Linked DNA regions of Homo sapiens: regions 1 and 2 are each linked to region 3. The links come from fine-mapping of genetic effects on gene expression. A gene starts in region 3. Each other region holds a variant in brackets. All regions are shown on one strand. Distances are between the middles of the regions.

What was found. PIP is the estimated chance that this variant, and not a neighbour inherited with it, causes the effect. A credible set is the group of variants that fine-mapping cannot tell apart.
Region 1: its variant is the best candidate, but not a certain one, in a credible set for the expression of GPR135 in whole blood (TOPMed, PIP 0.60).
Region 2: its variant is the best candidate, but not a certain one, in a credible set for the expression of GPR135 in whole blood (TOPMed, PIP 0.77).

What each region holds. Positions count from the first base shown.
Region 1 is chr14:59,073,191-59,081,077 of GRCh38, forward strand. No RefSeq gene overlaps it. Among named protein-coding and RNA genes, the nearest start is that of DAAM1, 110 kb to the right of the region's middle. The variant G/C (reference allele first, on the strand shown) is at 4,205.
Region 2 is chr14:59,542,254-59,550,140 of GRCh38, forward strand. It overlaps CCDC175 (coiled-coil domain containing 175), which reads right to left. Exons shown (of 20, transcript NM_001164399.2): 9 at 2,910-3,046; 10 at 1,091-1,201. Among named protein-coding and RNA genes, the nearest start is that of CCDC175, 31 kb to the right of the region's middle. The variant A/G (reference allele first, on the strand shown) is at 4,219.
Region 3 is chr14:59,461,781-59,469,667 of GRCh38, forward strand. It overlaps GPR135 (G protein-coupled receptor 135), which reads right to left and starts at 3,600. Exons shown (of 1, transcript NM_022571.6): 1 at 1-3,600. The coding sequence starts at 3,446. The coding sequence ends at 1,962. It also overlaps a transcript of L3HYPDH not described here. RefSeq lists a silencer at 3,131-3,670.

The DNA.
Region 1 (7,887 bases), 390 kb before region 3:
TGCACCTATACCCTGGACCTTAAAATAAAATAAAATAAAAATTGTCTTTTTTTCCAAACAAATTCTTTGGAGATATCCTTGATTTTTATATAGCTGTCCCGTCAGATCAAATCTACCTGCCTACCAACCTCTTCCATCAGAAACTGAATTAGCTCTCAAGAGTACAAGCTGTCGGCACTATGGGAAAATTTTGTTATTGTGTGACTTATAACTAAAAATAATTCTTATACTTTGGAAATGCCAAAATAATCACAATTCAGAACTCTTCCTCAAATAGGTATATATATATAGGTCAATATTTGAATTAAAGCAAATACTTTAAAATACACCAATATATAGATGGATTACCTACATAAATTTCTATGTGTGTTTTCTTCAAAGAAAAAATTAATTTCCCTATGCATAGATAGTTCAACTTGTTAAAACAATAAAAGTGAGCATTTTAATTTCCTTCCAGATTTGTAGAACAATTATATTATTTACTAGCCTATGCTTAAAGAATAATATTAGTTTCCAAAAGCAAAGGGACCTAAGTTAAGTATTAATAGAACATATGAGATTCATTTTCATTTTTATTGTACTCTATGGCTAAGGAAAGTAATAAAAAAATTCTAAGATTCACCAAAAGCATATGAAAACATAAAATGTATTCAGTGATTTGTCAAGAAGCATTTCTTTATATTATTAGGAGTGAAAACAGCCCCAGAAAAGTCCTCACCCAAGAATAGACCAGAGCTTATTGAGGTAGGCTTTCACCCAGATAGAAGGACATCTTAAAGCAGTCCTACCTCTAACGAAATGTTCCTGTATCTTCCTTCCCCTCCATGGTACATTTAGGCAGTAGCCCATCAGCATCTGAGCGGTGTTGTAGAACCCTTTTAAATGATCTCATGTCAACCTCACTGTTCTTTCTGGAACCTTGAGAGCGGCTAATTCTACAGACAGACCTCTTTTAATAGTTTCAATATATTAGTTTCTTATTAGTGCTATAATAAATTCTCACAACCTTAGTGTCTTGAAACAACACAAATTTATAATTACATTTCTGGAAGTCATAAATTCAAAATGCTCTCAGTGATCCAAAGTCAAGGTGTCGGAAAGTATGTTCTTTCAGGAGCCTCTGGGGAAAAATGTTTCCTTGCCTTTTGTAGTTTATAGAAGCCATCTGTATTCCTTGGCCCATGCCTCTTCCTCTATCTACTGAGTTGGCAAAGTTGGTAGGGTATCATCTTCAAATCTTCAAAAAAGCTGACTCCTCTGCCTCTCCCTTTCACTTATAAGGAGCTTTGTGCATACACTGCATCCACCCTGCTAATACAGAGTAACCTCCCCATCTCAAGTCAGCTGATCTTACTTTGTCCCTTCCCAAGTGACACGACAAATCCACAGGTTCCTGGGATTAGACATAAACATATTTGGCGGGGCATGGTGGCTCACCCCTGTAATCCCAGCACTTTGGGAGGCCAAGGCAGGCAGATCACCTGAGGTCAGGAGTTCAAGACCAGCCTGGCCAAGATGGCAAATACTGTCTCTACTAAAAATAAAAAAATTAGCTGGGCATGGTGGCGCACACCTGTAATCCCAGCTACTCAGGAGGCTGAGGCAGGAGAATCGCTTGAACCCAGGAGGCGGAGGTTGCAGTGGGCCGAGATCACGCCATTGCACTCCAGCCTGGGTGCTAGAGCAAGACTCCATCTCAAAAAAGGAAAAAAAGAAAAGAAAAGGAAGGGAAGGGGAGAGGAGGGGTAAAGGGAGGGGAGGGAAGGGGTGAAGGGAGGGTTGTGTGATCTTAAGCAAACCACTTAATTTTTCCCTGCTTCAGTTGTCATCTGTAGTGGTGATGGTTTGAATCACAGCCCTGCCACTTGTGATCTTGCAAGTTTTTAACCTCTATAAGCTTTGGTTTCCTTTGCAGAGAGAACAAAAAGGATAATAATAACTAACTCATAGGTTGTGAAGATTAAACAAAACAATACAGTTAGAAATCTTGGCTCAAATTAGGGACTTAATAAATGTAACTGGTTTTTGGGACCATGTAAATTATTAGTATAGGGTCTGTTATATAGTAGGTGGCCACTAAATTCAAACAAGAACTATTAATAAGTAGTAACCAGTATTAATCATATTAATCATTATTTTTAACATAGGTCTTGCATCTTATTTATCTTGTTATTTCCCACAATAATTTTATAGTGATATATAGTGATCATATATCACTATTTATATTATATATAGGTAGGTAATATATGTCTGCTATATATGTTAGTCAGAATTTATTTGGTTAAAAGTGATATAAACCCATCTTAAATTTTCTTAAAAACAGACAATTTACCAGCCAACACATTTTTAAACTCTAGGCATGGATGACCATTGAAGCAGATGCTGTTGGTACTTGCCCAAAAAACTACCTCTCTGTCTGAGAGCTTTTATCTGGCTTTGGGGACAGGCCCAGGCACAAAGAAGGGCAGGGCAGAAGTGTCAGAGAGTTAATGCCCCTGAAAGCAGCCATAAATCGATACGGGGAGTTGATGAATAACTTCTCTAGGCTCCTCACCTCTCAGAGGGAATGACTCTGAAACCTGTCCTACACTGTCCCACCAAGTTTCTTCTGTGGGATTGAGCCCCAGTTGCCCACCATATCAACATGCTTGAAATTACATTTTTATTGTCTTCCTTTACTTCTCAGTCTCCTTTCCCCACTCTCTTACCAGTATTTCCTGGGTTCACCTCCAAAATACATTGCTGGCACTCAAATTTATAACACTGCCCCAATACTTAGGCAGCACCCACCTCCCAGATACTGCTCTTAAATGATGTCAAAACCAGGTCTTAATAAGGCATTCTACCTTAGTCTTAGGGGAGGCAAATAATCGATTTAATTGTGGTGTCCTTCTTGGACATTAGGAATCTATTAGGAATCTTGAAAGAGTCAAGTGAAGAATGCTGGAGAGGTGGGAGTGGAGATTTTTCCCTGGAGCTGGGGCAGGGGTAATCTTCCAAGGAACATGTGGAATTCTGCAGCAAGAGCCATCACATACAGCCTGGGGAGGTTGTCCATAACCTAACTCCAGAGCCTACCATTTACAGAGACCCTGGGATGAAGGGTAACCCCTGGAGTTGTGCTGTGCCCCATCTGCATCTATATATGGAGGCCCTCTCTGTAGCTAGCCCTCAGATCCTGATATAAAAATGAGCATTTGAGAAGGGAGCTCACCAGGAGCATTGTTAATAATAACAAGAAATTAGAACGACTTACATGTTCATCAATAAGGTGTTGGTTAGTAAATGGAATCTCTAGCAAACTTTTTTAAAAATTTATTTTTTACTTTTGTGGGTACATAGTAGGTATATATATTTATGGGGTACATGAAATGTTTTGATACAAGCATGCAATGAGAAATAATCACATCACAGAGAATGGGGTATCCATCACCTCAAGCATTTATCTTTTGTGTTACAAATAATCCAATTACACTCTTTGTTATTTTAAAATGTATAATTAATTTATTGTTGACTATAGTCACTGTGTTGTGCTATCAAATAGTAGATCTTATTCATTCTATTTTATTTTTGTACCCATTAGTCATCTCCAGCCTCCCACTACCCTTCCCAGCCTCTGGAAACCATCCTTCTACTCTCTGTGTCAATGAGTTCAATTGTTTTGATTTTTAGATCTCACAAATATCTAGCTAACTTTGTAAAAGGTGATAAATCTATATATGACTTAGAAAGAGATATGGCTATGTAAAACAGAAAAGGAAGGGTATAAAAATGTGCTGATTTTATGTTTACATTTGTGTTTAAATGGATCAGCAAGTATGTTTTCTTATTGACTCAAAGTGATTGCATCTAAAATATGATAACAAGACAGGATTCTCACTGCCGTATCTCCCGATGCCAATCTCCAAGGTAAGAGGCCCTTTAAAACCTTAATGTAGGCTTCCAGTAGGCTACCTGTCATTTGTCTAACTCAGGTCTGGAATCATGCCACCCTGTTTTTGCAACCAGATATGATAGACACAGTTTTTGATAAGCAAAGATCAATATGCTAGCTAAGATTAAATATAAATGCAAAATGTTGAGTGTATCTTACCATATGAAATGAGATATAGCTTCTTCTGTTTTGTGAAGTTGGCTAGGAATTAGGATCACATTTGCAGAATAACTGATGCAAAATTTCCAAATTCTCCAGAACCGTGTATCT[G/C]TCTGCCAGCTCTGATTTACCATCTTTAGTGGACTTAGAGGCTAGATATGATTACTCAGTTAGGGGCTTGTTCTATACACAGTGGAATCCTTGACACAGGACTCATTTTGATTATCTTCTTTCTATGTTTGAATTGGTGACCCCCTCCCCAGTTGTACTCCATCTGTGGCCAAGCAAGTCTCAAGTCTAGTTTGAATCATCTGTCAGACTGTGTCTTTTCATTCCTTTGTGAATGGAGAGGTCAAGGATTCAAGAAAGTACCTATCCATACTTCAGCATATTTGCTGTGCCTGTAAAGATTATGGATCCTCCAAAATAAAATTTGGTGAACCAATCATGATTTTGGTTGGTCATTTTTAGGAGTGAACTTGACATACAAGGGAGAAGGTTAATCAAAATTCAATAGATTTCTTATTTTAACTGTATGATAAAACAACAAAGCCCTCAAGAAAAAAATCTAGCTGAGAAGTTGTAAGGGCTGTCACCTGAATCTAAAAGATTTGCCGAAGTTCTTAAGCAAAAATGTGAAGCTGATCCAGCCAAATGCCAAACAGCTGCTTTATACATACAATTGGAACAATGTCGGTTTGTTCAAGATGCAACAGAAAAGGTTGATATTTAGATTTCAAAATTAAAAAGTGAAAATGTGAATTTCAAAATTGAAAAGTGAAAAATGATATAGGATACATATAACTAATGAAGACATGAAAAATTCCATGTTCATTAGTTATATGTATCCTATATCATTTTTAACAGTTCGTACTTAACATGTATGTTAATGCTGTTTGAAAAAAATAAGGTTTTGAGTTTTCTAAAAGAACTCTAAACTTAGAACTCTAAATTTGTAGATTTAATATAAACCATTTGGGCTTTTAAATGGCATTTGAAGGCCTCCATGCTTTAAAAACTGTTTGGAAAAGATACCTTCCAAGCAATCAATTAAAATACTTGAGAATATAAAGCTTCCATTTATAAAAGGAGTGAAAACAAATATTTTTTCCAAACTTCTGTTTGAGAGAATACGTATAAATGTTTTTTATGAAAAACTTTTTAAAATGTAACATTTTTCAGTTTAAAAATAAGTTCCTAATTGATTCATCTAAGACATTATTATAAATTAAACTCTTAAATTTAAAAAAAAAATTTTATACCAACAAATCAAAGGCAAATATAAATTAAACTTTTTAAATAATACTTTTAGGGCCGGGCGCGGTGGCTCACGCCTGTAATCCCAGCACTTTGGGAGGCTGAGGCGGGCGGATCACGAGGTCAGGAGATCGAGACCATCCCGGCTAAAACGGTGAAACCCCGTCTCTACTAAAAAATACAAAAAATTAGCCGGGCGTAGTGGCGGGCGCCTGTAGTCCCAGCTACTTGGGAGGCTGAGGCAGGAGAATGGCGTGAACCCGGGAGGCGGAGCTTGCAGTGAGCCGAGATCCCACCACTGCACTCCAGCCTGGGCGACAGAGCGAGACTCCGTCTCAAAAAAAAAAAAATAATACTTTTAGTTTTAGATACTTTTGTTTCTCAGTGTAAATTTATACCAAAAAAATTTAATTCCCATGTATTTGGGAATGATAGCATGCCAAAGTGCATTAAGATATCTTACCTATCTTACTTATCTAATTTGGAATATAGGTCAAGGTGCATGTAACAGGGCTCCAAAATAACAGTGTTTTGAATTCGCCAGAAATTATTTCTCTCTTCTCCACCAGTCTGGGAGTAAATAGTGTGATACTAGCTTAGGACATCTACCCCATGAGGTCATTCAGGGACCCAGGCTCCTTCTCTTATTGTTGCACCATCTCTAGTATGCTCCACTGATTCTCATGGTCCATAGTAGCTCACCACCTCATCCACATCATCCACAGTTAAAACAAGGTCGAAAAAATGGGCAGTGTAGGGCACACCTGTTTCACTTTAAGGTCACAAGCCTAAAGTTGTGTACAACAATATCATTTATACCCCTTTGGCCAAAACTTAGTCTCATGGCCACATCTAGATGCAAGGGAGACTGGGATTTGTCAAAAATTCAAAATATCTCTCATAATAGGAGAAGAAAGGAATGGATGTTGGGAAGAAATAACAAGAAGTCTCTTCCACAGACTGCCCCTTTAGCCACCCATAAATATCCAACTACACTTGACCTGCCAAACGAAATTCTTTCCTTTTTCCCACAGGAGATACTCCCAAAGTCCCATCCAGTTATATCATCAGGTTGAAATTCCAGGATCTCTTGGTGATGGGTAGTTATCTCCAAGTGTGGCTCCTGGGGTCAGATCACCTACAGTCTAAGAGAAGGTTCTTTTTCTCCGCCAATGGTGATAGATTTGGCACCAAAAAAAGAAGAGAAGAAACATGACAGTCATTGTTTCCACAGTGGTAAGCAAATCCTTCTGGTCAGAGATTGTGAAGATCCCTGTCCTGGTTATGGAGCAAGTCTCTGGTTCAGCTTTCTATGGAAAACTCCCTGGTATCCATTGCTCCTAGCTCTAGGGGGTAATTCTTTGTCCATCAGCCCCTATGGCCACATCTGAAGGTCATGGGAGAGTTAATGCTCCTTGTGATCTACAAAGCTTGTGCAGCCTGCTTCTTGTTGGAGCGTGTTTACAAATCCAGACGTTGCTAAGAGAAACAAATCCAATATATATAAAATTATAAGTTCATACTTTCCAGTGCCAATCAAACACCAAAGGGTTCTTCCTTTCCTTGTGCCATTTCATGTTTGTACCACCTTTATGCCTCAGTAAGAGTCTTTTTCCCAGCAATATCAATCAACCTATCTATCTATCTCAATTCTAACATTCTAAAATTGAGCAAATAACTTCAAAATTACTCTATCAATACTTCAATACTTCTACTAACAAGAAACCTACTAAGTAATGTTTAGTATTTCTTCATAGTACTTCTTGTCCTTGGAATGTATCTCCCTGAGAGTGTACATCAAAGTAATATATTCAAAAGTCTCTTGTATTAATTTTTTTTATTCTGTGTGGTTATGTTAACATTTTTATACACATTGAGGTTCATTTGTTTTTATTTGTGTTCAATTTTAGGACTTTCTCCATACTTTCTGAGTTATCAGTTACTTTTGATCAACAGAAGTACCGCTAAAGACACATCCCAAAAAAAGATTATCAGGAGAAACTTGATTTCCTTAATCTTTAAGGAGCACTTCTACACTAAAAAAAAAAAAATACTAATAGAGTCCGGGCGCGGTGGCTGACGCCTGTAATCCCAGCACTTTGGGAGGCCAAGGCAGGCGGATCACGAGTTCAGGAGATCGAGACCATCCTGGCTAACACCGTGAAACCCCGTCTCTACTAAAAATACAAAAAATTAGCCAGGCGTGGTGGTGGGCACCTGTAGTCCCAGCTACTCAGGAGGCTGAGGCAGGAGAATGGTGTGAACCCGGGAGGCGGAGCTTGCAGTGAGCCGAGATCGCGCCACTGCACTCCAGCCTGAGCGACAGAGCGAGACTCCGTCTCAAAAAAAAATAAAAATAAAAATAAAAATAAAAAAACAAAAATCCTAATAGAAAAACACACAAAAGACATACACACAAATTAATTTTTAGAAGGCAGAAATAGCCAATGAATATATGAATTAATAGGACCTACTCATTGAACTATTTTGAGAGGAAAGTAAGATACTCCCGCAAAAAATGATAATGATTATGATCA
Region 2 (7,887 bases), 80 kb after region 3:
ACTGTCATACATGGTTTATTTTTCACCATCATATGTGGTTCATTAATTATTTCATATGTGTTAGTCTTGCTTCTCTGCCCAACTGAACTATAAGCTCCTTATGCTCAGTCTTAATGTGTACAATGGTAGAATATTTACATAGGTCATTTTGACAATCATTATAAAAGTGAAAAATATGCATCCTCCTTTGATCCAGCACTTCAACTTTTAGGACTTTATTACAAAAAAAAAGTCATATGGGTAGAGAGAGATATGTTAACTTCAAATATTTGTAATATAGGCAACAGACAAAAGTAAATCTCCATCAATAGAGTGCTGGTTAAATACAGTATAGTATAATGTGTATTATACTATAATCTGCATAGAATACTATGCAGTTAGAGAAAAGATTGAGATATATTGAGAATATATATATATTCTCTTTGTTTTGAAATAGTTTTAAACTCAACAGGTAAGCATAAAAAAATAGTACAAAGAATTCCCATATATCCTTCACCAAATTCTCCAACTGTTAACATTTTACCTTATTTGTTTTATCATCCTCCTAGGTATAATTTTAAGTGGAACAAATTCAGTTATAGTAGAGTATAATCCAATTTTTGGATACATACATATAAATATATATTTGAAAGCATATATTGTAAACTGTTAACAGTGATTATGCCTGTGGAGAGATGGAGATTTTAGGGTAACTTTTATTCTCTAAGTTATGCATTTTATATATGAATTTTAAAATCATGTACAGGTATTATTTTTTAATCAGAAAAAAATTAAAATTAAAATGACTTAGAATGCAGAAATGAACATCAATGGGACTCAGTGTTGTGATAATGTTCAGGCACATTCTTGTCACTGCACCCCAACTGGTCCATTCCTGGGGCCCAGGAGCTCCCATAGAATTCAGAACCTGTTTATCCTTTCAATGAAAAAGTCCATGAGAGTGACTTCCAGACTGTGAAACAGAGAGAGCTAGTTCTAAACTTCCTTTTCTGTAGTATGTTAGAAATCAACATAGATTTACTGCTATCATTTATTAAAAAATAAATGCAGAGAAAGTAAAGATAAAAAATTTCAAAGGCAACAAACATACTGTTGAAGTTCCTGGAGTGTGATGAGTCCTTCTTCCATATTTTTGATGTCTACTCTCTTTTGTGACAGAAAGTATTCTTTCTGAGAAATAAATGTCAGCTGTTTCTGATTTCTATCATGAAAAACAGAGTTATTTGTTGAAGGCTGACATAAATATGCAAACACAAATAAGAATTTCAAAAATAGTTTTGAAAGTTCAGATCATGAGCTATTTGCTACATAAATTATTAAAAAATAGAAAGCAAGTCTTTTTGCTAGTGGTAGCTAGATCTAAATTTATGCAAAGGATTTTCTTTTTTTCAAATTTTTTCCCAGCTGATTTTTGTACTTTTGTAGAGATGGGGTTTCCCTGTGTTGCCCAGGCTGGTATCAAATGCCTGGTCTTATGCGATTGGTCCATGTTGGCCTCCCAAAGTGCTGGATTACAGGCGTGAGCCACTGTGCCCAGCATACACATAGGATTTTCATAAAATTTATGAAAATTCCCAAGCCACTGAAAGAATATTCACCACAATAGTAACCACAAAACAACAAGAACAGTTGTGTAGTGCTCCATGTCTCTGAGTGGGTGTGTCTCTCCTAACGTGCTTATCAATTCTGTCATGTTCTTCCATGGAAGGTGAAGGAGTCAGTCAGATTAATTTTGCATATTGGCTCTACCTTTTAATAAGAGTGTGATCTTAAGCTAACAATTAGCTTCACCTGTGAATAAGCTTCAGTTTCACCAGCTATAAAATGAGAATTACAATGCCTAGCTCAACGGATGAATGAATTTAATAAGATGTAAAGTGCTCCTCTCAGCGTGTGGATTGATAAGGGTTTTTTTTGTTTGTTTTGTTTTGAGACGGAGTCTGGCTCTTGTCGCCCAGGCCAGAGTGCAATGGTATGATCTTAGCTTACTGTAACCTCCGCCTCCTGGGTTGAAGCGATTCTCCTGCCTCAGCTTTCAGAGTAGCTGGGATTACAAGCACCCGCCACCATGCCCAGCTAATTTTTTGTATTTTTAGTAGAGATGGGGTTTCAAGTAGTTATTTTTTTGTCTCAAATTGCAGGAGAAAATAATGAGGCTCAGAGAAGTTTATAGTCTTGTTCAAATGCCCAGCTATTGATAGGAAGCTGCCTGTATCAGAAAGTATTTTATCTAAGTGACTCATCTTCCAAACTGCTGTGGACTGAATTGTGCCTCCCCCATCTCCAGAATTTATCTGTTGAAATGCTAACCCCCAACATGATGAAGAAATAGAGAGATTTGGGTAATTTTTACTCTCTAAGCTATACATTTCTATATTTGAATTTAAAAATCAAGTACAGGCATTGCTTTTTTCATGAGAAAAAATTAAAATTTAAAGTGCTTTAGAATGGCAGAAAGGAACATTGTGGGGCATTAGTGTCGTGATAATGCTCGAGCATATTATAAAGATGGGGCCTTTGGGGAAGTGATTAGGTTTGGATGAGGACATGAGGGTGGGACCTTATAAAAGAAAGACACCAGACAGACAGCATGTTCTCTCTCCACCCTGTGAAGACACAGAGAGAAAGCGGCTGGGTGGCTGTAAGCTAGAAAAGGGCCCTCACTCAGACTTCCAGCCTCCAGAACCGTGAGAAAATCAATTTCTGTTGCTTAAGCAGCCAGTCTATGGTATTTTGTTATGGCAGCCTGAGCTGCTGAGACAGAAACCAGTAATGATAGCAAATGTTTTCATTTTTGTCAATAGATTTTAAAACTAGGATAAGTTTAAGTGGAGAGCCACCACTTTGATAGCAAGAAAAGCACCCCATAATGATGGCATGTTGAATCACACGTGTGGGTAAAGACATACTCATCATGAATCTTTTGTTTTTGCAAAAAAGCTTTTTCTTCCTCACTTAAAACAATCTTATATTGTCTGGCAAGAGTTTTCATTTTCTCTCGTAGGTCTTTGTATTCCATACGAGCAGCATGCAGTGTTTCAACCAGCTAGAGAAAAACAAAGGAGGTGAATGAGAGGACTGGCTTCACTGCTCCTCTGAGGCCATCTGCATCAGGTGGCAACTCGGAGAGCACCTGGGATATTGCTTAGCCCACCGTGAATATGCCATAAATGCCGAGTGATTTAATTCTATAGCAAACATACAACTGTATATTTTGAGACCTCTACTATAAATTTTTTTAAGTATAGAAAAATAGTAAACCCTGCTGCAAAACCATAGAGTAATAATCCATATTGAAATGCAAAATGGGATGAATAAACTGTGACTGCTGAGCAACGTTAGTATGTCCTTTTCCAGAATATAAACTATAGAAAATGTAACATCCTCAGAAGCTCTTCCTCAAAACATTTTTGAGTTGATATTATGCTTGCTTCTTGTGAAATATTTCTATTTGAGGACAAAAAATAGTACCCACCAGTGTTCTACATGAGATCAGAATTTTTTGCTTATTAAATTGCTTCAAACGAGGTAAGAAAGTCAAGTTTAGCGGAAACAATGGGCTGAATAGTTCAAAACAACCTTCTATCTGAGGACAACTAAAATAGCTACATGAAAAAATATTTGTAGAAGTGTTGAAGAACTCACAAGATAACAAAGAATTATTCAAAAAACAAAAATAGAATTACTATTCAACCCAGCAATCCCATTACTGAGTATATACCCAAAGGAAAATAAATTAATCTACCGAAAGGATACCTGTGCTCATGTTTATTGCTGCACTATTCAGAATAGCAAAGACATGGAATCAACCCAGGTGCCCATGAACAGTGGATTGGATAAAGAAAATGTGGTAATAATACACCATGGAACATTATGCAGCCATAAAAAAGAATGAAATCATATCCTTTCTAGCAACATGGGTGCACCTAGAGGCCATTATCCTAAGTGGATTAATGCAGAAGCAGAAAATGAAATACTGCATATTCTCATTTATAAGTAGGAGCTAAATATTAGGTATACATGGACACAAAGATGGGAACAATAGACACTGGGACTCCAAAAAGATGGAGGGAAGAAGTGGGGAAGGGTTGGAAAACTACCTATTGGGTATTATGTTCACTACTTGGGTGACGGGATCATTAGCAGCCCAAATCTCAGCATTATGCAATATACCCTTGTAATAAACCTGCACATGTGCTTGAATCTAAAAAAATAAAA[A/G]TAAAAAATAAAGGATAATAGGTGATTGCTAGGCCTAATTCTAGGAGAATGAAGAATCCAGAGCGGTAAGGCTAGCACTTAAAATTCCTCTGCCTTGAAAACACTTACTAACATAGAAGAAACCACTTGAAAACCAAGTTTTGGGTTTTTTTGCATGGCAAGTGGAACAAAAGCCAACATGTAATGCTCATCCAGGTGTTGAGCCTACATAAACCTCCCACTATTTTAGTCTGGGATTCCAAAGAGCTTCACCCTTTGGAAGGCTGAGGCAGGAGGATTGCTTGAGACTGGGAGGTCCGAGGCTGCAGTGAGCCATGATCATACCACTGCACTCTAGTCTGGGTGACAGAGTGAGATCCTGTCTCAAAAATAAATAAATAAATAAATAAAAAAGAATGCACAATTAAAAGATGAACAAATATCTAGAGCTTCTCAACATTTGAGTAAAATCAATACTGTAAAACAAAGCAATCAAAATCTACTATAGGCCAGGTGTGGTGGCTCGTGCCTGTAATCCTAGCACTTTGAGAGGCGGAGGTGGGAGGATCACTTGAGCCCAGGAGTTAGAGACCAGCCTGGGCAACACAGGGAGAATAGGACAAAAGAAACAGGTGAGGACATAATGGCTGAAAATTTTGCAGAACTTATGAAATATAGAAATTCTCAGATTTAAGAAGCCAAATAAATCCCAAGGAGGAAAAATGAAAAGAAAATTTGGACACATCATAGTGCAACTGAACAGCTAAGGCAAAGGGAACAAAGAAGATCTAAAACAAAAGACATATGCCATGTTAACGGATTGGAAGCCTCAATACTGTGAAAATGTGAAACCCTCTTCAAACTGATTTACAGATTTAACACAATCCCAATCAAAATCCAAACAGGTTTTTTGGAAGAACGTGACAAAATTGAAAAGGTCAAGAATAGCTGGAACACTTTTGAAGAACAAAGGTGAAGGATTTATACCACTGGCCATAAAAACTCATTTTAAAGGTACTAATTAAGACAATATTGTTTTAGTGTGAGGAGAGATGAATAGTTCAAATGAATAGAGTCAACAATCCACATATACATTTATGATCTATACTTGATTTATGACAATAGTATGACCACAATGTAGTGAAGGAAAGGATTGTATTTTCAGTAAATGGTGCTGGTTAATTGGACAACCTTATGGAAAAATATGAATCTTGACCACTATCTCAAAGCACATACACATAAATTCCAGATGGTTCGTAGTCTTAAATGTGAAAGGTCAAACAACAAAGCTTCTCAATGGTAACAGAAGAGAATAGTCTCATGACATAGGACATAGAGAACATTAACTAAAAAGATTGATAAACTGGACTTCATTAAAATTAATAAATTATATTCATCAAAAATATGTACATAAATATTGTATATTTATGGTTTATGTATTGTTCTGTAATGTGTAATATTTTATAATAACAAAGCTAAATCCAACAATGCCACTGCTGGGTATATATCCCAAGGAAATGAAATCAGTATGGCAAAGAGATATCTGTACTTCTATGTTCATTGCAGCACTATTCAGAGTAGCTAAGATGTAGAATCAACCTAGGTGTTCATCAGCCGATGAATGGATAAAGAAAATGTATACATGCACAATTGAATATATTCAGCCTTAAAAAAGAAGAAATTCTTGTCATTTGTGACAACATGGATGAACCTGGAGGACATCATGTTAAGTGAAATAATTCAGGTACAGAAAAACAAATATTACATGATCCCAATTATACGCAAAATCTAAAAAAAAACTGAACTCAGAAGTAGAGAGTAGAATGGTGGTTGCCAAGGGCTGGTGAGGGAGGGGAGATGCTGGGAAAAAAAGGTAAAGTTTGAGTTGAATGTCAATCTTTGAATGTTCCTCCAATAACTCATGAGAATTATGATTGGATGTCACTAAGAGCCCATAGTTTCTACCCTAGTGAAAATAATAAATAAGCAAGAGCCTTGCATTCTTTGAAGTGATCACTCACTTATAACCATGGAATTTGGCTAAGGGCTATGGATTAAAGGAAAACTCTTTGACCAAGTAAGCCATGCCAGTTTAGGGGTCCTAGACTGTTCAGAAAATCATGTGGGCTAGAAAATGTGGAGTTATTGTCAGAAAGTTGTCTACTAGCTTCTGCAGTAGGAAACAAATGGGAGGAAAAATAATATTTTGCTCACAAAATGAAAGACAAATTCGAAACCAACCAACCAGCCAACAAACCAACCTTGTCTGGTTTCTGTCTGTTGTTAGGTATCCTTGCAAATAAAAGAATCACAGTAGCCCAGAGGGGAAGCCATCTCTCATGCTGATAGCTCACAAAAGCAAAAATGGAAAGCATTTAATTGGTACAAATCATTCTTCTGGGAGGGAGCTGCCTTTGATATCCCTGATGAGCCTCAGGGCATGGGTACAGAGGCAGATATTATGCTTTGTAAAAGAGGGAGAAGAATTTGGATGTGGGGTGGTATCCTACAGCAAGAAGATAGATGAGGAACTGTGAGAGAAAGAAAAGGTGGTGAACAAGATGGCTTTGTGCTCTGCAACAGGATTTCTCCCCATGACCACTAAAATTTCCAACAGAGTTTGCAATAGATCATGAAATGCTTAGTGTAATTAAATTTGTTTTAGAAACTAGTGAAAAATGTGAATTTTATATCCTGGTTGACTTGGGCAAAACAAAGATAGAGGATGTAGACAGAGAGTACCTGACCCAAGTCCTGAACAATTAAAATTAAGTATGTGTGGCTAGGGGTGGTGGCTCACGCCTGTAATCCCCAGCATTCTGGGAGACCAAGGCAGGAGGATTGCTTGAACTGAGGAGTTCACAACCAGCCGAGGCAACATAAAGCGACCTGTCTCTGCAAATAATTTAAAAATTAGCTGGGCATGGTGTTGAGTGCCTGTAGTCTCAGCTATTCAGCAGGCTGCAGCAGGAGGATCACCTAGGCCTGGGAGGTTGAGGCTATAGTGATTTGTGACTATGCCACTGCATTCCAGCCTGGTGGGTGGATCATTTCAGGTCAGGAGTTGGAGACCAGCCTGACCAACATAATGAAACCCTGTCTCTATTAAAAGTACAAAAATTAGCCAGGTGTCATGGCACAAGCCTGTAATCCCAGCCACTTGGGAGGCTGAGGCAGGAGAATCGCTTGAACCCCAGAGGCAGAGGTTGCAGTGAGCTGAGATCATGCCACTGCACTCCAGCCTGGGTGATAGAGTGAGACTATGTCTCAAAAAAAAAAAGAAAAAGAAAAAGAAAAAAAAGAAAGAAAAGAAAGGAAATTAAGTTTGGATATATGAGGTGTTGGGAAGAGATACTAAGGATATTTCTCCTTCAATACAAGGGACAAGAAGAATTTCAGTTATGTCTAGTGTGTATGTATATTTGTGTGTATAAGTAATTAAATGGGATCATATCATACATACTGTTGTTTCTCTTTTTTAGAGGGACTCTTGCTCTGCCCCCAGGCTGGAGTGCAGTGGTGCGATCTCAGCTCACTGCAACCTCTGTCTCCCAGGTTCAAGCAATTCTCCTGTCTCAGCCTCCTGAGCAGCTGGGACTACAGGTGCACACCACCACACCCAGCTAATTTTTTATTTTTGTAGAAATGGGGTTTCACCATATTGGTCAGGCTGATCTCAAACCCCTGACC
Region 3 (7,887 bases):
AATTGAAGACTTTATCATTTCTCTCTAAATCCCAAAAGTGACTCGGTGCCAAAAAATACACAATTTTTTGCCTTTAACAGGCAAATACCGCAGACACCTGTTTTTGTTAGTCCAGCTGCATGAAGTCTGTATATGCTTTATAAAATAAGGGCTAGAGGGGAGGGATTATCTCATCTACTTTGTACTACATTGAGTGTAGCAAAATATATACAATTTACAAACTTCTGATTTGTGATGATACCCTGAGAAGCAGAAAAAATTAAAACATCTTTAGCTCTGACATGACTCATATATTTCCACCTTTGATTACAAAATAATGACATGTACCCACCTGTCAAACAAAGAAATACTTAAAAACATATTTAAATACTTTACAGGAAGAAAATGCTGGCTATTTCACATTGAAATCTTCATACGACAGCTAATGTCTTTTCATATCTACTGTAAATAACTTGTTCAATTAAGGCTATGAAATACTGAAGAAAAGGGGCAGGATGGAGGAAAAGAAAGGGAAAAATAATATTTAAAAAAATTCTGAGTAAATGATTCTGTGTATAGTCGTATTTAACATTAGAAAGTTCACATACGCTTTTGAATTATTGTAAAACCATCTTTTCTGCTAAGATAGAAATTTAAAAAGCATCTTTGATTTGCATATTTCTAAAGATATTTTCAGTTTGCTTGAAGTTCTTCTCCAACTTTATGCCTGTGTTTTAATACCGTTACATATAGTCCCACACCTATTCTCCCTTTAATAAATACATTATCTTCGACAAGTCATAGCTATAAAGCAACCATCAGCTATTTTAAAAAATACAAAATATACCAAATTTCTAAATGTAGGAGGGTATGATCTATTTGGAAAAGTCTACGCTAATTCCAAGAGGCTGCTTCTCAAAATAGTTTTAGAATTTCTCTTTGGAATCGTTTTCAGTTAGCTAAAAGCCACGTAGGAAACCCAACCTTGTTGTTTTATAGAGGTCTCATTTTAAAAAATAATAAAAATTTAAATAAAGTGGCATCACTCACCTTATTCAATCAACTTGACTTCAAATTACATTTTTGGCTATATCCAAAAATCAAATTTACCTCAAAAGACAAAAATTTTCTACAATGAAAATATTTTTTTAAATGTGAAAGCATTCTGAGAGCAGCATTCCAAAATTTATCAGAAATAAAAGTAACAGGTTAGAGTAAGGATAAAACTTCAAAGTTTTCCAAGGAAGATCATTTTGGAGGTATGACGCGGGTGGAAGGAATGTTAATTTTTACATATAATCTTGGAAAACATTTAAAAGACACATTTCTTTATGTTCATACTTCTATTTGTCCTTCAGATGGTTGAATTTTATCTAATAATAACCAGCTTTTCAAAATCCTAAAATGATTTTAAATGGGTTATGAATTAAAAATTTTCCACAAAGGTTATTAGGGGGTGGGGTGAGGAGGTGCACCAATGTGTGTAAGGATAAGACTTTTCCACTTGCAATCTAAGCACCCAAAGCATGTCAGAGGTGCAAGCTCTAGAAGCTAAAGTTTTGTTGGATGGTAGCGATTTAGAGGGGCTTTCAAGCAGCTCTGAAGGTCTCCATTCATTCCTGAAATTCTGTGTAGTTGAACAATACTGGTTGCATTCAATGTTTTGTTTGTTTCACAGTGTGGTCCTATAATATGAGCTTTTCAGTTATAGTGAATGTTATTTTTGTCATTTTTGGCACTTACAGTTCACAATGCTTGGTTATGTGGTTTAAGATTGTTTTAATTTTTGCATTTTACATTCCTTTTGGCACTTTTGAAGAAGGGACATTGTCTTTTATGTTGTTTGGGGAAAGTGGTAAGCCTCCCCCGTCTCTAGCTTTAAATGTTTGGCTTTATGAAATCCACAACTCTCCCCCAGAATCTTCCATCATTAAATAATGCGAGTGGAAATTTGCCTTCATAAGCTGGCCATTCCAACCGTCTTAGAGGCTGGTATCCCCAGCTTCGGATTTAGGCTGTTTGGTCACTGCCGTCACCGGCTCTGGTGGTCCCTCTCGGCAGAAAAGTACAACTGGATTTTTGCGGGCCCACATGGCCACGTCCCCTGCCACTCCGCTGGCCGGGTTGGAAGAGGACATCCTGTTGCAGGCCCCCAGCCGGTTGGCATAGCGGTTTCGAAGGCGACTGCGGCTTCTGGCTTGCAGACCCGGGCCCTGGCTGGGCAGGAAAGCGTCCACATTCCTAGTCCGGTAGCCCTCCTCGCGGTTGCGCCCTAGGAGCATCGAAATGTTGGGATTGCGGATGGCGTAGATGACAGGGTTGATGGCCCCATTGGCCCAGGTCAGCCAGACGGCCACCACGCTGAGGAGCGAGGGGGCCTGCATGGTCTGGGCCTGCCGGGCGGCGGCCAGCAGCACCAGGAAGCAGTAGGGCCCCCAGCAGCAGATGACGAAGACGATCATGATGAGGACGGTGGTGGCCGTGCGCACCTCGCTGAAGAAGCGCAGCACGCGCGCGTAGGTGTTCACCGGCCGCACGCGCACGTCCGACAGGCGCACCGTCTTGCAGATGTGGTAGTGGCAGAAGCACATGAGCAGGAAGGGCAGCAGGTAGCAGGCCACCACCAGCCCCACGCTGAAGGCCGCGCCCAGCTGCGCGGGGTCCGGGGAGGTCCGGTAGAGGCAGCCGTGGAAGCTCTGCGCCGCCGCGAGTTCCCGGGGCGCCCCGAGCAGCTCCCAGGGCAAGGAGAAGCCCAGGGCCGTCAGCCAGGCGCCCGCCAGCAGCTGCAGCGCGCGGCGGCGGCCGATCTTCTCCCGCGGCGGCCGCACGATAGCGCAGTAACGGTCCAACGAGATGAGCGCCACGCTGAGCGTGGACACGATGCCGAAGCACGAGCTGAAGAAGCGGCTGGCGGCGCAGAAGCCGCGCCAGGGCCCCGCGGCGGCGGCAGGCGCCGAACCCCCGGGCGGAGTGAAGAGGTCCAGGAAGGCGGCGGGCAGGCAGAGCAGCGCCGTGAGCAGATCCGATAGGGACAGCGACAGGATGAAGGCGTTGGTGACGGTGCGGAGCTGCCGGTGCTTCACAATCACCCCCATCACCGCGCAGTTGCCAAGGCTAGACAGCAGGAAGATGAGCAGGAGGACGAGCGCCTGGGCCGCCACTGCAGCTCCGTGCGACAGCAGCGGCGCCGCCTCCGGGCCTAGCGGCCGCCTCACCGCCGCCCCCGCCTCCCGCGCTGCCCCGGACCCGCCAAGGCCGCCGCCACCGGGAGCGGCAGCTGTGCCGCCTCCGCTTGCGTCGCTCAGGTTCCCCAGCGCCGCGGTCGCCACGGTGCTGAAGGAGAGCACGGCCGCCGTGGCCGCGGAGGAAGTCCCGCCAGGTGGGCCGGCCGCGGAGGGGGCGCCGGAGTGCTGGCTGCCCAGTAAGGCCATGCTCGCTGGTGGGCGGGGCGGCTGCGGCTCCTCCATGGGGCCCAGTGGCGGCCGCGGATCTCCTCATCCCGCACCGGGGGCGGCGGCCGCTAGGTCGGAGTGGTGGCTCGGGGCCGGGGGCTAGCGGCCGCCGCGGGGAGCTGGGCTCGGCCGGAGGGGTGGCGGTCGCTGGGGACCTGGCGGAGCCTTTGACGTGGGTTCCAGCGTTGCCGAGGGAACCGCGTGTTTACGCAGGAGCGCGGGGCGGGACGGCAGCCCAGTACCCGCTGCAAAGCCGACCCGCGACACCGCCACTCCGGAGGTTACCGGCCCGGGTGTTCGGGTTTCCGAGAGTGCCAGGTCGACCTCCTGAGGGACCAATGTCCGGCCAGATAAAGTGCCGACTGGCATGCAAACAAATGACCAGATTCAACGAAAGTTCACTCTTGCTCTCTTTTGTAGGGTACAAATGTTCTACAGGCAGGCCTTTTGGGGAGTGGTGGGGGGGGCACTCTGCTTCCTGTGGGTGCTTTTGGTATATACAGGTAGGAAAGGAATCTAGAAAGTGAAGTGAAAGAAAAATCCAGAAGTCTACATCCAGACATCTTAAACTTGAGAAGCAGACTAATTTAAACCAGTAATTCTCAAACTTGAGCTAACAGAATTCACATAGAGGGCGTGTTAAAATACAAGTGACGAGGTCTGAACCCCAGCGTTTCGAATATGTCTGGGGAAGTACCCAAGAATTTGTATCTCTAACGGGTTCGCGGGTGGTGATGATGATGCTGGTCCCAGGACCACACTTACAGAAGCACTGATGTCAAGAGTTTCATAAAATGCAGATTCCCAGGCTGACAGAATTACTAAGGATGGGCCCATGACTCTAAACCCCGTAGGTGATTCTGATACAGGTGCTCTGAGGAGCTAGGATAGTTCCTTTAGATGTTACTTCATTTCCAAGGGCCTGGACCTCAGGCCCCTACTGGCTGATAAATGGGGGGAGAGGGATTGGTGCCTTGCCCTGCTAGCAGCCTTCATCTGTTCTCAGGAATGGGGTATGTTTTGAGTCTAAGGTGCTGCCAGCCTGGCAATCACCACAGATGCAGCTCCAGGTACCTGGCTGGGAGATACGGGGAAAAGAAAGGCAGGGCTACCCAGGGAAGTTGCATCTCAAGTTTCTGGGCATGGCCTCTAATGGGGAAAAGTGTGATAAACCCTCAGGTTAACTAACCCTGGGCTCTTCGCTAAAGCAGTGGTTCACAGAGTATGGACATTGGACCAGCAGCATCAACATCCCCTGGAAACCTTGAGAAATACAAATTATCAGGCCTACAGTGCATAGGATACCCCTGATCTACTGAAACTCCTGTGGTGGGGCCCAGGCACCTATGTTTTAACAAGCCCTCCCAGTGATTCTGATGCACAAATTTGAGAAACACTGCTCTAAAGAATGACTAGTATATTTGTAGATCTTAGAATCAATGGTATTAGTATTGGAGTGCTTATTTCATTCAGAAAAAATATCCTACAGGAAATTTACAGTATAAATAGAAGAACGTTTAAGGTGGCAAACCAAAACTGGGTTTGTCAGCCTAAGCGTCATGGACTTTTGGGCCAGATAATTCTTTATTGCAGGGGCCATCTATACATTGTATGATGTTCAGCAGCATCCCTAGTTCCTACCTACGAGATGCCAGTAGCACCTCTCCCAGCTGTGACAACTAAAACTGTCTTCAGATATTGCCAAATATCCTCTTGGGAGCAGTCAATGCCAGCTTAATCTAGACTGATTTTGTCTTAATTTTGTCAATCAAAGCAAAAATATAATTATCATACATTAATTTATTTGGCAAACACAATCTTCTCAGATTGTGCTTAGTTTTAGGAAACAACATATAAGATAGGAAACCCAGCCCAAATAAGCTTAAGCCACCGGCCAACACAGTATATTACAGTGTGCTAAATATTGTCTTAAAAATATGTGAGTGAAATTATTTGTCTTCCTGACAAAGACTTTGTACAAGAGGTGACATTAGACTTTTTAAAAAAAGAAGAAAGGGAAAGAACATTTGATGAATGTGCAAAGTCTGGAGGTTAGTGTTGAAGTGAGCAGTGTCTGAATTCTAGGATATTGGAGATGGGGAGTGAAGAAGGAAATAAATGATCAAAGTTTATTGGGGCTACCTTATGATGGGCCTTGTAGGCCATGCTCTGGAGACTGAACTTCATCAGGGGAGGAGGGGCTAATAGCATAAGGGAGGGCCGTGAGCAAGTGCATGGTTCAGAAGGACCAGAAGGACTGCACTCTTCTGCTTCCTTCCTTCCTCATCTTTCTCAGTGTCCTCTCCTCTGCCAGTTCATCCTCTTCCACCTGCCTTTACATGCTGGAGTTCATCAAAGCCCTGTTCTCAGCTCCTCTGGACTCCCCCCTCGGCCCCATCTCACTCACATCCAGGACTTCAAAGATAATCTATATATTCATTACTCAAATTATGTCTGTGGCCCCAACCTACATGTCCTGCTACTTGGCATCTCTCTCCTTGATGTGCCAGTGGCACATCAAATGGGTGCATGATCTTCTTCCTACTTCCCCGGTAAAACTTGGTCTTCAATACTCTGTATCTCAGAATATGGTAGAACCATCCTTCTAGCTTTTAAGCCAAAAACTTAAGAGTTTTCCTTGATGAATCCCTCCTCCTTACCACCAGTCCACATCCAATTCATCAACCAAGACCTATGGATTTTAGTTGCGGACTATCTTTGCATCCATTCATCTCCTCCATCCTGAATCTTGGCTCTCATCCTCTCTTTGGACTACTGTTGTCACTGTTGTCCTAACCGGTCTTCCCACATCCAGTTCCTACATTGTAGGCAGCTAGGCATAATGCTCTTAAAAAAATTCTTCATGCCACTTACTTATTTAAACTCTTCTAATTAGGCCAGTGTAGTGGCATGTGCCTGTAGTCCCAGGTACTTAGGAAGCTGAGGAGGGAGGATCGTATGAGCCCAGTAGTTACAGGCCAGCCTGGGCAACATAGTGAGACCATGTCTCTTTTAAAAAAAATCCTATTGGCTTTCCCCATTTATTTTAGAATAAGGACCCCAATCCTTAATATTTCCTACAAGGCACTGCATGATTTGACCCTGCTTCCTCTCTAGTCTCATTCGGTACCACTTTCCTTCTTTTTTCTGTGTTCCTGCCACACTTGGCTTTTATGACTTCCTTAAACCTTCCATCTTAGGGTGTTTGCACTTGCTATCCCCTCTGCCTGGAAAGCTCCATCTTCTTCTTCCCTTCCCTAGCATCCCCATCTTCGCGTTAAGGTTAGTCCATGGGGGAAGCCTCCCTTGACTGATACCGTCCTTTCCCCACGTATTGGGCCATGTTCCCCTGTTAGTTTCACAGCACTCTGTATTTTCCATTGTAGCACATAACCATGGTCTATAATTTTTTGCGTGATTATCTAAGCATTACCTGCCTCCCACTCTATACTATATGAGGACCTAAACCTTGCCTGTTTATTTTATGAGATCCCCAGCACTTAGCACTCTAACAAACTGCTATACAAATGCCAACATACAAAAAAATATTTTTTGAGTAACTGTAAGAGGAGAATCTGGAATTTAGGAGACCACTTAAGGAGAGGCATTCTAACAGTCCAGGTGAAAAGTGAGAGTCTGAAGTGGACCTTTGCAGTGAAGAAGGAGAGGTCATGTATAGATTAGGGTAGGTAGTATATGGATTAGGATTCTCTGGGCGTAAGTAACACATGAGGACACTGGTTCACATAAGCAATATAGGAATTTACTGGAAGGACAGGGGAAGTTCCATTTACAAAAGGACAGTCTAACAGCAGCTCCAAGAAGAAGAGAAGTCAGAGCAGTCCTGTGGGTAGGGAGAGCAGAAACTGATGGGAGTGATCTCTTTAGGCCACCATTGGAACAGATCAACTTCAGTTTTCAGACCTTATGTCATTTCTCAAGATCTCAGGTCTGGGGGAAAAAGTCTTGACTGGTGTACCAGTTTCCCAGCAGTCCTAGCAAGACTACATGCAGGTAGTTTCCCAAAGAAAAAGGAGAATGCTGTTGATAAAAGAAGGGGAGGCCAGGCGCGGTGGCTCATGCCTGTAATCCCAGCACTTTGGGAGGCCAAGGTGGGTGAATCACGAGATCAGGAGTTCAAGGCCAGCCTGGCCAACAGGGTGAAATCCCGTCTCTACTAAAAATACAAAAAAATTAGCTGAACGTAGTGGCAGGCACCTGTAATCCCAGCTACTCAGGAGGCTGAGGCAGGAGAATCGCTTGAACCCGGGAAGCAGAGGTTGCAGTGAGCCAAGATCATGCCAACTGCACTCTCGCCCTGGCGACAGAGTGAGACTCCATCTCATTAAAAAAAAAAAAAAAAAAAAAAAAAAAAAGGTTGGGGGGTAAAAGAAGGGGAAAGGCATGATGGCTGGAGAAATCCACAGCTATCCACCTCAGGAGCATCAACAAAGAG